Linked DNA regions of Homo sapiens. The protein of the gene in region 3 purifies or fractionates together with the protein of the main gene of each other region. This does not show direct contact. Each region holds a gene or a part of one and is shown on either strand. Other genes may lie near its edges.

Region 1 (5,202 bases), on a different chromosome or scaffold from region 3:
CTTGGGAGGCCGAGGCAGGAGAATCTCTTCAACCTGGGAAGCGGAGGTTGCAGTGAGCCGAGATCGTGCCACTGCACTCCAGCCTGGCGACAGAGTGAGACTCCATCTCAAAAAAAAAAAAAAAAAAGGTAAAGGCTAGGCACGATAGCTTACACCTGTAATCCCAGCATTTTGGGAGGCTGAGGCAGGCGGATCACCTGAGGTCAGGAGTTTGAGACCAGCCTGGCCAACATGGTGAAACCTCATCTCTACTAAAAGTACAAAAATCAGCTGAGCGTGGTGGCGGGCACCTACATTCCCAGCTACTCGGGAGACCGAGGCAGGAGAGTCACTTGAACCCAGGAGGCAGAGGTTGCAGTGAACCAAGATCATGCCACTGCACTCCACCTGGGTGACCGTGAGACGCCATCAAAAAAAAAAGAAAGAGGAAAGAAAGAACGAACGAACGAAAGAAAGAAAAGGTAAAATCCCTACTTAAATAATTCACAACCTAGTGATTGGGAGGAAATCAAGGAAGACCTTGTAGAGAAGGTGACACTTGAACTAGACTTTGAAGAATGAACTGGGCTTCATAGGTAGAAAAAAAAATGCAGGCTCAAAAAAGTGCATGACATTTTTGGAACAGCAAGTCATCCAGTGTGGTTAGACTGTAGGAAACTAACTCTGAAAAGACATTGTCAGTTACATCTTGGGTTTGCCTTGACTTTTACTGGAAAATTCCACAGACTTAAGAGAAAAATTAAAATGGACAATTTCCAGGAAAAATCCACTAAACTATTATACATAAGATGTAGCTACAATAAATTACACTTCTGGGTATAATACTTGTTTATGTTTGCATATCATTAATGATCATAGATGACTTATGCCAATTTTAATAGATTAGGTAGTAATTTTTTGTCATTATATTTAATTTTGAATATACTGTAAGAATCCTCTCCAATGAAGTACACATGTCAAATCATCTGGTAATGATTTCATTATGTGTAGGAAAATAAAACATGCTTTAATGCTGTGTGCGGTGGCTCACGCCTGTAACCCCAGCACTTTGGGAGGCCGAGGCGGGCGGATCACGAGGTCAGGAGATTGAGACCATCCTGGCTAACATGGTGAAACCCTGTCTCTACTAAAAAAAATATACAAAAACTAGGCCGGGTGCAGTGGCTCACGCCTGTAATCCCAGCACTTTGGGAGGCTGAGGTGGGCGGATCACGAGGTCAGGAGATCGAGACCATCCTGGCTAACACGATGAAACCCCGTCTCTACTAAAAAATACAAAAAAAATAAGCTGGGCGTGGTGGCGGGTGCCTATAGTCCTAGCTACTCGGGAGGCTGAGGCAGGAGAATGGTGTGAACCCGGGAGGCGGAGCTTGCAGTGAGCTGAGATTGCTCCACTGCACTCCAGCCTGGGCGACAGAGCAAGACTCTGTCTCAAAACAAACAAAAAACATGTTTTAATAAGTTACCTGGAAAGTTTTGTGGTTTGTTTTTTGTTTTTTGTTTTTTTTTGAGTAGGAGTCTCACTCTGTCTCCCAGGCTGGAGTGCAGTGTCACAATCTCAGCTCACTGCAACCTCTGCCTCCAAGGCTTGGATGATTCTCCCACCTCAGCCCGCCAAGTAGCTGGGACTACAAGCACACACCACCATGCCCAGCTAATATTTTAATTTATTGTAGAGACGGGGTTTCGCCGTGTCGGCCAGGCTGGTCTGTAACTCCTGGTCTCAAGTGATCTGCCTGCCTTAGCCTCCTAAAGTGCTGGGATTACAGGTGTGAGACACCATGCCTGGCCCCAGTCAATAGGATATTTAATGAAACTTGACATACTGATTGTTAAATTCATCTGGAAGAGAAAGTGCACAAGAAGAGCCAAGAATTTTGGGGAGGAGAAAACAATAAAGGCAAGTCATTATCAGTTATCGAGATATATCAGTGATAAAGCCATAATAATGTAAATAGCAAGAAATGTTGCCTGAGGGCTGGACACAGTGGCTCATGCCTGTAATCCCAGCATTTTAGGAGGCCAAGGCCAACATGGCGAAACACTGTCTCTACTAAAAATACCAAAAAAAAAAAAAAAAAAAAAGGCAGATGTGGTGGCACACCTGTAATCCTAGCTACTCAGGAGGCTGAGGCAGGAGAATCACTTGAGCCCAGGATGTGGAGGTTGCAGTGAGCTGAGATCACATCACTGCACTCCAGCCTACTGCACTCCAGCCTGGGTGACAGAGCGATACTCTGTGTCAAAAAAAAAAGAAAAAAAAAAAAGCCAAGTGGGGTGCCTCATGCCTGTAATCCTAGCACTTTGGGAGGCTGGGGTGAGTGGATCATTTGAGGTCAGGAGTTCAAGACCGACCTGGCCAATATGGCAAAACCACATTTCTACTAAAAATACAAAAATTAGCCGGACGTGGTGGCACGCACTCAAGAGGCTGAGGCAGGAGAATTGCTGAAACCCAGGAGGTGGAGGTTGCAGTGAGCCGAAATCGTGCCACCGCACTCCAGTCGGGGCGACAGAGCAAGACTCAGTCTAAAAAAAAAAGAAGTGATTCCTTAGGAACAGAAAATTATCAATGACTAGCCAATTGCCCTAATACCCTTTACTAGTCAGTCTTTTATTTATTAATCAATATGCCACCTTTATTGTAGACCAAATTCTCCTGGATCAATAAATAAAAGACTGATTAGTAAAGGGTGTTTTTGAAAGGAAAGTTAGACCCCTACTTCAAAGCATAACAAAAAATGTTGCAGGTGGCTTTTGTCTGCAGCTAGAAAACAAAAATTTGTAAAAGTCTTGAATATAAAGATGTATAAATCTTGAGATGGTTAGGGCCTGCCTTCATGGGTCACAAAACGAAGAAGATTTAAAGGAGAAGATAGATTTGTCTATTAAAAAATAATAATTTGCCATGACAAAAAAACATAAAATTTAGTCAGGAGACGAAATAATATTTGCAATTACAAAGGCTTCATTGCTTGATCTTAGGAGGTCAAAGCTGCATGAGCCATGATCATGCCACTGCACTCCAGCCTGGGTGACAGAGCAAGACCCTGTCTCAAAAAAGCCAAAGGCTTTGTATCCATGTTATAAATCAGTAAGAGAAAGATAACCCAGCAGAAAGATGGTCACATTTCCAAAGAAGAAATTCATATTAAAAGATGTTCATCAGCTGGGCTTGTGGGCTTACACCTATAATCCCAGCATTTTGGGAGGCTGAGGTGGGAGGATCTCTTGAGCCCAGTTCAAGACCAGCTTGGGCAACATGGGAGACCCCATCTCTACAAAAAAATAAATTAGCCAGGTGTGGTGGTGTGTGCCTGTGTTTGCAGCTACTCAGGAGGCAGAGGTGGGAAGATGGCTTGAGCTCGAGAGGTTGAGGCTATAGTGAGCTATGATTGTGCCACTGTGCTTCAGCCTAGGCAACAGAGTGAGACCCTATCTCAAAAAAAAGTTCATGCTCACAAGTAATTAGGTCAATATACATAAGACCAATAAGATAATATCTGGAGTGTTTGGGGCTATAATGATTCATTTTATAAAGCAAAGTCACATTTGATCTACATATATATATATATTTCCATTTACCAAATTTGTTTAGAGTAAGATAGACCAATAATGAAGACTTCTAATTAATATGTCAAGTCACATAAAGAGGACTTTCAGGTATTTTTGTGGGGTGTTATTACTATATGAGTTTAAACTTTTATATCTAAATTAAGATTTTCTTTGTTTAACTATCTTTCATATACCTGTAGCTTTTTTTTTTTTTTTTTTTTTTTTGAGTCAGGGTCTCGCTCTGTCAACCAGGCCAGAGTGGAGTGGCAAGATCATGGCTCACTGCAACCTCAAATTCCTGGGCTCAAGCAGTCCTCTCACCTAAGCCTCCTGAGTAGGTGGGACTAGAGGCATCCGCCACCATGCCTAGCTAAGATTGTCTATTCTTTGTAGAGATGAAGTCTCACTATATTGGCCAGGCTGGTCTCGAACTCCTGGGCTCAAGCAATCCTCCCACCTCAGGCTCCCAAAGTGTTGAGATTACAGACATGCGTGAGCCACTGCACCCAGCTGCCTTTTTTTTTTTCTGAAATGTAGTCTCACTCTGTTGCCCAAGCTGGAGTGCAGTGGCGTGATCTCAGCTCACTGCAACCTCTGCCTCCCAGGTTCAAGCAAGCCTGCTGCCTCAGCCTCCCAAATAGCTGGGACTACAGGTAATTTTTTTTTCTTTTTTTTTTTTTGAGCCTGAGTCTTGCTCTGTCGCCCAGGCAGGAGTGCAGTGGCGTGATCTCGGCTCACTGCAAGCTCTGCCTCCCGCGTTCACACCATTCTCCTGCCTCAGCCTCCCAAGTAGCTGGGACTACAGGCGCCTGCCACCACGCCTGCCTAATTTTTTATATTTTTAGGAGAGACGGGGTTTCACCGTGTTAGCCGGGATGGTCTCAATCTCCTGACTTCATGATCCGCCCACCTCAGCCTCCCAAAGTGCTGGGATTACAGGCGTGAGCACCGTGCCTGGCCTTTTTTTCTCTTTAGAGATGGGGTTTCCCCCATGTTGCTCAGGCTGGTCTTGAACTCCTGACCTCAGGTGATCCACCCACCTCGGCTTCCAAAAGTGCTGGGGTTACAGGCGTGAGCCACCACATCCGGCCTTTTTTGTATTTTTAGTAGAGATGGGGTTTCACCATGTTAGCCAGGATGGTCTTGATCTCCTGACCTTGTGATCCACCCGCCTCGGCCTCCCAAAGTGCTGGGATTACAGGCCTGAGCCACCGGCGCCTGGCCGCAGCTGCATATTTTTAATTGCACTAGGGACTGGGTGTGGTGGCTTATGCCTATAATCCCACCTCTTTGGTAGTCCAAGATGGGAGGGTCACTTTAGGCCAGATGTTCCGAGACCAGCCTGGGCAACATAGTGAGACTCTGTCTCTACAAAAAATAAAACTTAAAAAAATTGCACTGGTATGTTAATTTCATATGGTATGTGGGTTTATTGTTTCACATAGAGATTAAAATGGCTTCCAGAGGAAAGACAGAGACAAGCAAATTAAAGCAGAATTTAGAAGAACAGTTGGATAGACTCATGCAACAATTACAAGATCTGGAGGAATGCAGGTAAGAGTTTAATTGTATGTTGTTATGCTGGAAACTGGCGTTTTTTCTGCAGCTAGCTCCGTGGATGCAGGCCCATGTGTGATGATTCTGCAT
Region 2 (5,202 bases), on a different chromosome or scaffold from region 3:
CCCCTTAGGGGAAGGGAACTGGAGTCTTCGCCACATAACCCCAGGCAGTGGATCCACTCACATACTTTTATTATTATTATTGTTATTATTATTATTTTTTGAGATGGAGTTTCACTCTTGTTACCCAGGCTGGAGTGCAATGGCACAATCTTGGCTCACTACAGCCTCGCCTCCTGGGTTCAAGCGATTCTCCTGCCTCAGCCTCCTGAGTAGCTGGGATTAGAGGCATGCACCACCACGCCCGGCTAATTTTGTATATTTAGTAGACACAGGGTTTCTCCATGTTGGTCAGGCTGGTCTCGAACTCCCGACCTCAGGAGATCTGCCTGCCTTGGCCTCCCAAAGTGCTGGGATTACAGGCGTGAGTCACCGTGCCCGGTCCCACTCATGAACTTTTAAAGTCAGATAGTTCTGGCCTCAAAATCTGCCTCTGGCACTTACTCCCCTAGGAATCTGGGGGAAAATCACACCAGCCTGAGCCTCAGTGTGCTGTGCCATAAAATACAGAGAATCAAACCTCTGAACAGGGCTATAGTGAAGACTAAAGAAGGCAAGGCTGACGAGACCCAAACGCTCAGCTCGAGGCTGGCCCAGGGAAGTGGTTGGCAAGTGGCTGTCATGAGGAGTGACAAGGGTGAATTGTGGGTTTCACACAGGTTGAAAATCAGCAACTCCCTCATCCTGGATGTCAAAGCTGAACCGATCGATGATGGCAAAGGCCTTAACCTGAGCTTCCCTGTCACCGCGAATGTCACTGTGGCCGGGTGAGTATGCACTAGAATCTGAGATTTGGGAAAGGCAGTGCAACCTGGCCGATGGATGCCCAACCTGGGAATCGGGCACCTCCTCCCGCTGCTGGGTGAACTTGGGCCTCAGTTTCCCAATCTGTGAGTGAGAGAACCCTTCTGGGTCTAAGATCTTAACCCTTAAAATGTTCTAGAGAACTCTGGCCATAAGCAAGTGTCTTTTAAAAACAATGCTCCATTGAATATAGTTTTGAAATCATGACATTTATCTGGTTTTAAAATTTGAAAAGTTGAGATAACAAACATTTATCATTCTTTGGCAAAATTTCCTCCAGCATTATTTTGTCCCTCAAGATTCTCTCTAAGTTGCAGTGACCACTACAGAAAAATTCATACAATAATACACAGTGTATAATAAAGTGTGTGTGTGCAAAATATAAGTTTAAACTCTTTTAAGTTTAGCTGGGAGTGGTGGCTTATACCTGTAATCCCAGCAATTTGAGAAACTGAGGTGGGAGGATTGCTTGAGCTCAGGAGTTCGTGACCAGCCAGGACAATATGACAAAACCCTGTCTCTACAAAAAATACAAAAATTAACCAGGTGTGGCAGCACACGCCTGTAGTCCCAGCTACTTGGGAGGCTGAGGCAAGAGGATTGCTTGAGCCGGAGAGGTCGAGGCTGCAGTGAGCCGTGATTGCACCACTGCATTCCAGCCTGGGCGACAGAGTGAGACCCTGTCTCACAAAAAATAAAAAATTTTAATTTTAAAGGAGATAGACAAGAAATGAGCATGTGTGAAAGCACTTCTGTAAACTACATGCACTAATGATGCCACCCATTATTTAGCTATGAGATCTTGGGATAGTTACTTAACCTCTCTGTACCAAGGTTTCCTCATTCAGAAAATAGGGATAGTAATAAATGAATCCAGGTAAAATACTTTTTTAAAGTACCTACACATAAATTGTTGTCAATAAATGTTAACTATTATTATTTTACTTATTAGTGTAATGTTGTATAAAAAATTCATATGAGCTAAACCCAAGTGGCCAGGAGAAGAAGCCCCTAATATAAACATGTAAATCTCATAGAGGATATGGACCATGTTGATATTACCTGGGCCATGTTGACATTACACATAGACATTCTGACTCATGTCCACACAGGTGGAGGAACCCAACTGGGCAACAGGCAGGAACTTCTAGACTTTGTTCACTGTGCATCTTACTTCCTGCAGGCCCATCATTGGCCAGATTATCAACCTGAAAGCCTCCTTGGACCTCCTGACCGCAGTCACAATTGAAACTGATCCCCAGACACACCAGCCTGTTGCCGTCCTGGGAGAATGCGCCAGTGACCCAACCAGCATCTCACTTTCCTTGCTGGACAAGTAAGTCCCATTCATCTTAGTAGAGCTGGGCTCTCAGGGAACTTGAGGACCCCTAATTTCAGCTCTAGTCCTCTACCTAAGAGGAGGCCTAGTGGTGAAAGTGTTCAGGCTCTGGAGTCATGTTGACCTTGGTTTACACATCAGCTCTGCCACTAACTTGTAACTTTATCACCAACTTGACCCAGGCCTGTTTTCACATCTGTAAACTGGGGGTGTTCATAATAACTACTCATAGGCTTCTGAGATGACCAGATGAGAAAATACAAATATTTAGCACGCAGCCTGGAACATGCTGCCTCTCTGCCTGCTGGTTCTCTCCATTACTGAGACTGGAGTGTTGAGCTCCCCACCATAATCATGGATTTGTTCATTTCGCCTTTCAACTCGGTCAGTTTCTGCTTCATACCCTTTGGAGCTCTGTTGTTAGGTGCATGCACATTAGGATTGTTATGACTTCTTGGAGAATTGTCCACTTTATTGTTATGTAATGTCCCTCAATAATAATAATAATAATAACGATAAAATTATATTTACCTTCTTGCCTCCAGTTGGGAGGGAGAGGGGAGAGTAAGTGCCTGCCACGGGCTCTAATTTCAGATTGTCCCCAAATCATCCTCCACCCAGTGGAAATTTCCTGAAAGGAGATCTTGAAAACTTAATCCTCTCCATTTGACTCACTGATCCCTTTTAATCCACAAAATCTACATCTTAAGCTCTGTGCCTGAAAGAGCAGGTTTGACTCAGGCAAGAGGGTGGAAGGAGAAAGAGTGATGCTGGCCGATGGCTGGGAGAGGATGAATGACCCAGAAGCTGAGGGCTGGGGCTACTTGGCCTTGGCCAGGAGCAAGGCTGGGTCCTCAGCTCTCAGCCCCTGTGGCCATGAGCAGAGGACACTCCACTCGCCCTGCACTGAGGGATCTGAACACAGGTTGCTCAAAGACCCCTGAAAACCAAAGAAAGTTTCCATAGCCTGATGTGAGTTGCGAAGGCCGGGGTGTAAATTCAGAGGCTGGAGCCTGGCTGGGTGCTATCTTCCCAAGTAGCCTCAGGGACGCCATCCTGCTGCACTAGGTCTGTGCCCACATCTGTGAGATGGCACCACTCTGAGGCTCCAGATCCTCCCAGGGTCTTTCTTTGCACTTGTGGTTCAATCCCAAGTGCTCCCCATGGTCATGAAGGCTCTGTTTGATCTGGCCCCACCCTTGTATCCCTGTACCCTCCCCTTACTCACTGTGCCCAGATACAGTGGCCTTTGTGCCATGTCTCAGATAGGCTGTTTCTCAAGGCTCTTTCCCAGCTTAAGACCTTTGCCTGGGGTGCTCTGGCTACCTAGAGCACCTTCTTCTCACTCCACTTTGATGGACTTTTGCATCCTTCAGGGCCTTCCCAGGGCTCCTCCTATTCTCTCTCGTAAGAGTCTAACTCTTGCCTTTAAAGCACTCGTCACAAGTTCTCAATATATATTTAATTGTATGTTCACTTCTTTCATTCTTTCAGCCAAAAATGTATTGAGGCTGGGCACGATGGCTCCACACCGGTAATCCCAGCACTTTGGGAGGCTGAGGTGGGTGGATCACTTGAGGTCAGGAGTTCAAGACCAGCTTGGCCAACATGGCAAAATCCTGTCTCTACTAAAAATACAAAAATTAGCCGGGGGTGGTGGCGGTTTCCTGTAATCCCAGCTACTCGGGACGCTGAGGCACAAGCATTGCTTGAACCCAGGAGGCAGAGGTTGCAGTGAGCCGAGATCGTGCCACTGCACTCCAGTCTGGGTGACAGAGCAAGACATTGTCTCAAAAAAAAAAAAAAAAGTGTATTGAGCATCTGCTGTGTGCCAGGCAGGCACCATTCTGGGCTCTGGAGAACTGATTGGTGATGACAGACAAGGTCCCTGTTCTTGCGGAGCTTACCCAAGGGAAAGCTAAGCTGCCGTGGATCTGTGTCCACATCTGTGAAATGACACCACTCTACAGCTCCAAATCCTCTCAGCGCTTTTCTTTGCACTTTGGATCCAATCCAACCCAAATTCAGTCCATCGGTAAAGAACGCTCCAGGGAAATGAGTCCTGCAGAAAGCATTACCCTTAACTGGGCACTGTGATAGCAAAGCTCTCTCTTAGGTAAGCAGTCAGGGAGGGGTGCCCTGAGGAGGTGGCAATTATACTAAGAGTTGAAGGTGGGAGGAGCCAACTTTGGCAAGATTTGTTTAGGTACCACATCAGGGTATGTTTGGACCCTTAATGTTTAGGTACCAGGTTAGGGGATGTTTGTACTTTACTTATTCGGTATCCTCAGGGCCCAGCTAGGTTCCTGGTGCATAGCTGGTGCTCTGTAAATACGGGTTGAATGAGTGAACGAATAAGGTCTCTGCGCTGAGAATCTCATGAGGCACTGGGGTGAGCCGCTGGTCAGATGTGGGAGTCTAAGTGATGATCCATGTGGATGGGAGGCTCTGTCTGTTAAAGTGTCTCCATGTCCCTGGGGTTTATCTGACTCCACAGTATTTCCCGCACCGCCCCCAACTTTTTGGCAGTTCTCCCATCTCTTGCCCACTTGACCAGACTTTAATAGTTCCCTGTGTTTTCCAGACACAGCCAAATCATCAACAAGTTCGTGAATAGCGTGATCAACACGCTGAAAAGCACTGTATCCTCCCTGCTGCAGAAGGAGGTGAGTCTCCCACTCCTTGGAGCCCAGATCCAGGCCTGGTGGGGGCAGGTGGGGGAATTTGCAGGCCTGGCTGTATCCTCTGAGCACTTTTCCTTCGGAGGTGAAAGCTTCTCCTTAGGAGGTCAGCTGGAGCTTCCTCCTCTACTAATCAGCCTGGTGGGTAGCAGGGTAGAGCAGAGGCCTGACATTAGCTGAAATTGCCAGGTCCCAAACTTGAGCCTCTCACCATATCCACGCACTACCAATATGCTTTTGTAGCTAACATCTTCAACACAATTTTACTTAAATATGTTTCTTTAGAAGCATTTATTTTTAAAAATAAAACTTTATATCCCTATCATAAATAGAAAATTAATATCACATATCATACAATCAATGGACTTATAAAATAGTTTT
Region 3 (5,786 bases):
ATTCTAGTGTCATCCCACCTAGCCCACACCATGGGAAAACCTCTTAAAAATGTATTGATAATCTTAGTGTCTAACAAAGGCTGACAGCAAGAATGTTTCATCTTATAAACTGTGACTATGTTTTACCTTTTTATAAGACTACAGATATATCTGCAAATTATATTATTTTTAGAGTACTTAGAGCATTGGGCTAGAAGGATGTTAAAAATAAAATTTGTAAATCAAAAAGGACAAAATTTGAACTTCCATTTCTCTGCCTGGGTAGCCTCAAAGCTAACTATATTTACCAGAGCTTATAACTTTACCTTGCTTTGTCTAAAGTCTTCTGTTCTTCAATCTTCTGTTCAGCATCCTTCTCAGCTCGATTTGAAACGCCTACATTCTGTTTGCTCCAGATACTTGGTTTCTGGAGAATAATTTTAGAAGACAAAACAGAACCACATGATTGCCAAAAAATCTCTACTTGTGCATCAGGAAAAAAAAAAACAAAGGAGATCATGAGTTCTTATGAATCAATGGAGATAACTAGATAAGCTGTGTCCTACAAAGATACTGACTATACATGGCAAGCAGGAGCTAAAAAAAGAGCCCTCAATTATATAAATAACTTTTTTTTTTTTCTTTGAGACAGGATCTCACTCTGTCACCCAGGCTGGAGTGTGGTGGTGCGATCTCAGCTCACTGCAGCCTCAACATCCTGGGCTCAAGTGATCCTCCCACCTCAGCTTCCCAAGTAGCTGGGAATACAGGTGCGCACCACCATGCCTGACTAATTTTTTTTTGTAGAGACGGGGTTTTGCCATGTTGCTCAGGCGGGTCTCGAACTCCTGGGGTCAAGTGATCTGCCTGCCTCGGCCTTCCAAAGAGATGGGATTAGAGGCGTGGGAACCACGCCCAGCCTAAAGAGCTTCCTGAGTGCAGAATCACTTCCTACTATCTTTTATCTCCTGAATGATTACAACCTAAATCAAGATTAATGAAAATGTACATATTACAGAGAATTAGTAATACAAATAGTAGACACTATTACCTATAAAACTGGAAAAATTCACAGCTCTTATACACCCTGATATTTTCCGCTATATTCCTATATTATCTAATTGTTTATCTCTATTTGGATACCTAACACTTATAGAACCAGATAACCTTCCATCTGTTTATGAAATGTAAACAATCCACATTTTTCCAAAAGAAGTGCTAAAGAATTAGCACATTACTATGTACTTTTATATAATCTTACTAATTTCTATTTTAATAACATTTCATGCAGATGTTAAATACAAGATAGAGATTTTTCCTTAACATTTATGTGTACAGATACCACTGACAATTTTAAAACACTTAAATATGGTATAATTCTCCCATGTTTGGAACCAATGGAGATAATTAGATCTTATTTTTTACCTTGTTAGTTGTTTTTGGTTTTCCAAAAACTCCAGAATCTTTTAGAAGTTTTTCTTGTTTGAATTCTTCTTGCTTTCGGAAGAGTTCAGCCTTAAGATCTACCAACTAGAATGAAAGCAGTAAGTAAACAAAAATATTAAATTCCTGCAGGTGACTGGATTGCTAAATTATTATAATTTCCAAAGGAATATTTCAAGTTCCGCTAAATGGACAAATATGGCTAAAAAACTAAATGTTTAAGTAACTAAATGTTTAAATGTAGAATCCAGTACACAAATTAAGCTAAGTCATGTTTCATTCTACCTCTGCTGCAAATGCATTTTTACTCTGACTTTCAACACTCGAGGCTTTCCTTAGGCAAGGAGAAAGTGATAAAGCAAAATAAATTAATAAAGTCTGCATCTTTTAGTTTCAGATTAAACTTGCATTATTAAGCACCTTCTCTCTGACTAGCACTGCACTCATTTCATCATCACAACTTATTTCTACAGTGAAATGCTGTAGAAATAACGCTGAAGAGCAGAACATAAACATGAATTAGACATACTCTCTGCCTCAAAGAGCCTACAATGTAACAAGGAAAGTAATTTATACTACCAACAAAATAAAACAAATGACTCTAGAGTGGAAGAAAGTAGCACATAAGTTCAGATAACAGAGCATTTCCTTCTGAGCAGAGTGATCAGAGAAAGCTTAGAGCAGAGCCTTTAAAGACACATTATTTCAACAGCTAGAAATAAAATAGACTGGGTGAATTATAACAGCTCCACGTTTGACTTAATCCATTTCAAAAACCGTAAGCTTGGCTGAATCACACGGTTCAAGAACAGGAAAGAAGGCCAAGGCATAGGGAGTGGGGCAGTTGGGTGAATATTAGTACCTTTCCCTCAGCTACATTAATTACCCCTGCCTACTCTGCAAAAAAGGATATAACAACAGTTTCCTTTTTAATGGTCCAGGTACAGCTGCTTATATGGATGGGCATTTGTAAATCAGATACTTCATCACTGTCTTAATCATCAGATACTTAAAAAAATCACTTTATTTGTTAAGGAAGATAAAAATGGCTGGGTTCAATTTCCGTTTTGGAAGAAATCGATTTAAAAGGTAACCATTTAATAATGCAAAGGGCAGTTTCACTGCAGACCCTAATACTGGAAATTTTTAAAAACAAATGAAAAACTTCTACTTTTTCTTCTAAGCTTACTTAACCACACCAAATTTTCCAGCCACATATCTTCCTAGTCTACAACTGCCTTTAACTTTAAGAGATGCTCAAAAAAATGTAAATTCTCAAATAGCATTCTTATTACAATTACTGCTAACCTGTCAGTATAGGTTGGCTTTAATATTTATAGCTTTCTGGTTCCTGATCTTCAAACAAAATAATAACTGGTACCAATTTTAACCAATAATAGTTACCAATAATAACTAGTACTCAAATATTGGGACACCTATATGTTTTCCTTCCTACTCACTTTGTGTCCTAATACTCTGAAGTAAATTCAAGATTAAATCAAAGGTTGGGCAATTTGCTCTGATGATGAAAAGGCAGCAGCTTTGGAGTCAAGTAGAGTGAGTGAGAAAGGGTCTATCACTAAGATTTCTTCCCCCCGCCCCCCGCCCCTTAGACGGAGTTTCGCTCTTGTTGCCCAGGTTGGAGTGCAATTGCGCGATCTCGGCTCACCGCAACCTCCGCCTCCCCGGTTCAAGCGATTCTCCTGCCTCAGCTTCCCGAGTAGCTGGGATTACAGGCGTGCACCACCACGCCCGGCTAATTTTTTTATTTTTAGTAGAGACGGGGTTTCTCCATGTTGGTCAGACTGGTCTCAAACTCCCGACCTCAGGTGATCTGCCCGCCTCAGCCTCCCAAAGTGTTGGGATTACAGGCGTGAGTCACCGCGCCCGGCTATCACTAAGATTTCTGTCTGTAAGCTGGGGAAAGCTACTTCATCTTTCCAGGCCTCAATTTCATCATCCATAAAACGGAGATATTAATAGCACCTACCTCCTAAAGCCATTGGGAGGATTCAATGAGATAGTGCATATAAAGTGCTGGCACAAAATGTGTACTTAGAACAAGTTTTCTTTCTAGAGTAGCTGATGTAATAAATCTGCTTACATCCTTTCAGACCTCACAACTCCCTATGCCTGCATTAACAACTGTTTAGTTCCAGGGAGGGCACGCTGGACACTTTCGGGTCCTGCGAAATATGTCACACTCTAAAGTTCTGGGAGGACTTTGTGGGTCCCTGGATGGAGGAGAAACCAGGAAGAGGATATGTCTGCATAGCAAAAAGAAGCTAGGGTTCCTCCTGACTGTAAGGGAGAAGGCTGACGAGGTGCAGGTCCTTGTGGGCAGGGCAGAGGTGAGGCACGGAGTTTCCTAACCCACGGGACACCAGGTTCAGATCCGTGTCCGAGGGTTCTGGCCCGGGCGCATGTCAGAGGAGAGTAGCCCAATTCAGGGTCCTGTAAGAAAACTGAACCGGATCCCCGCCGGAGAAGAAAATCCAGTTCGGGGGTTCCTGTTTGAGGGGAGAGGTCAGGTCTCTGGGTCCCCGAGTGAAGAAACAAGCTAGGTCGACATTCTTGTCTGATGGAGACACGGTGAACCCGGAGCCCGTGGAGTTACCTCATACCCTCACTCACCGAGGAGGCCGTGACGTCCAAAGGCTTTTTCCTACGGTCCATGGTCGTGGCAGAGGGTCCCGGTCCAGGAAGGACCCTTTCTACCCGACACAGGCCTCGTAAGCCTACCTCCGTCGCAACCGGAAGTGTCTTCGACAGCGACACTGAGTTTGCGTGAGTTTGCGACGCGAGTTTGTCAGCTCAGCGCCATCTTGAGAAGGTCAGAGTGTGGTGCGTATTACGTTCACCATCATTTTGGAAAGGTCATAGAGTGCGGAGGTTGACGCTAACTGCTAAGGTCATCTTGAGGGCGGAAGGTAACAAGGATTGGTGTGGGCGCCATCTTGAGAAGGGCGGAATAAAGCTTTTGATTGCGATGGACGCCATATTGGGTGGGGCGGATGTGGGGTTGGCGACAAAGATAACGCCATCTTGGGGAAGGCTGACGCTTAAGTAAGTGAACTCGAGCGTCTCGGGAAAGGTGGATTGGGAGGACCGGAAGAATCTTAACTGCAATTCCAGGACCTGCTGCCTGGCACTTTTCACACGTTAAATAGTTGGTTCTTAAAAGAGCGTACGAGATAAGGATTATTATATTAATCTTAGTAGAAATAACAAGAATAATAGCTAACATTAATGTAGTGCTTATTATGGGCCACTTTACATATTTCAGCTCTTAAGAACGTGAACTCCTGGGCCGGGCGCGGTGGCTCACGCCTGTAATCCCAGCACTTTGGGAGGCTGAGGCGGGTGGATCAGGAGGTCAGGAGTTTGAGACCAGCCTGACCAACATGGTGAAACCCCGTCTCTGCTGAAAATACAAGAAAAAAAAAAAATTAGCCGAGCGTGGTGGTGCGCGCCTGTATTCCCAGCTACTCAGGAGGCTGAGGCAGAAGAATCGCTTGAACCTGGGAGGTGGAGGTTGCAGTGAGTCGAGATCAAAAAAAAAAAAAACAAAGAACACGTGAACTCGAAAGCTGACTTTCTGGGTTGGAATCGCTCTTCACGGCTTACTGCTTGTGTGACCTTGGGCAAGTTACTTAACTTCCGTGTGCCTCAGTTTCCAAAGGGGGATATAATTTTATTTACCTAATGGGTCTTAGTGAGGATTAGATGAGTTAAATGAGCTAGTCTTGATAAAAATGTTAATGATTATGGTAGACAGACCAATCACCCTCACCCCGACTCCCAGATGTCTACCTTCTAATCCCCAGAATCTGGGTATATGGTGACCTTTATATAGCAAAAGAGAATTGGCAGAGATGATGAAATTAAAGCGATTGAGATGGGGAGCTAGCCTGGATTGTGCAGGTGGGTCCCCTATCATCAAAACCATCCTTATAAGGGGTAGACAGGATGGCCAGAGTCAGACAGAGATCAGAGATGCTTTGAAGAGGGAGAGTGGGACCACATGCCTAGGTATGCAGGAGGCCGCTAGAAAAAGCAAAGAAATGAGCCCTCCTCCAGAGTCTCCAGAAGGAATGCAGCATTGCTGACACGGTGATTTTAGTCTTGTAACACTCATCTCAAACTTCTGACTTCCAGAACTCTACCAGAATACGTTTGTGTTGTTTTAAGCCACCAAACTTGTGGCAATTTGTTACAGCAGCAAGACGAAAGTGATCATAATGATTGTAACAGTGGCATTTAGTATATGTGGGGCATGTGTATGACTCTTTGCATAGATTATATTATATAATCCTTGCAAGAATCCTAGAAGCGGACCTATTATCCACCATATTAGAGAGAAG

What was found.
Region 1: the proteins of CCDC174 (region 3) and LZIC fractionate together in Homo sapiens (co-fractionation; one large-scale study listed by BioGRID). This does not show direct contact.
Region 2: the proteins of CCDC174 (region 3) and BPIFA2 purify together in Homo sapiens (affinity purification with mass spectrometry; one large-scale study listed by BioGRID and IntAct). This does not show direct contact.

The regions. Positions count from the first base shown.
Region 1 is NC_000001.11:9,936,426-9,941,627, reverse strand, and holds part of LZIC (protein LZIC), read left to right. Parts: intron 1-5,000; coding exon of another isoform or gene 5,001-5,008; coding exon 5,009-5,109; intron 5,110-5,202.
Region 2 is NC_000020.11:33,173,423-33,178,624, forward strand, and holds part of BPIFA2 (BPI fold-containing family A member 2 precursor), read left to right. Parts: intron 1-656; coding exon 657-764; intron 765-1,984; coding exon 1,985-2,137; intron 2,138-4,724; coding exon 4,725-4,806; intron 4,807-5,202. UniProt on the Homo sapiens protein: Has strong antibacterial activity against P.aeruginosa.
Region 3 is NC_000003.12:14,650,149-14,655,934, reverse strand, and holds the start of CCDC174 (coiled-coil domain-containing protein 174), read right to left. Parts: upstream 4,174-5,786; 5' UTR 4,099-4,173; coding exon 4,057-4,098; exon of another isoform or gene 3,814-4,056; intron 1,510-3,813; coding exon 1,405-1,509; intron 407-1,404; coding exon 306-406; intron 1-305. UniProt on the Homo sapiens protein: Probably involved in neuronal development.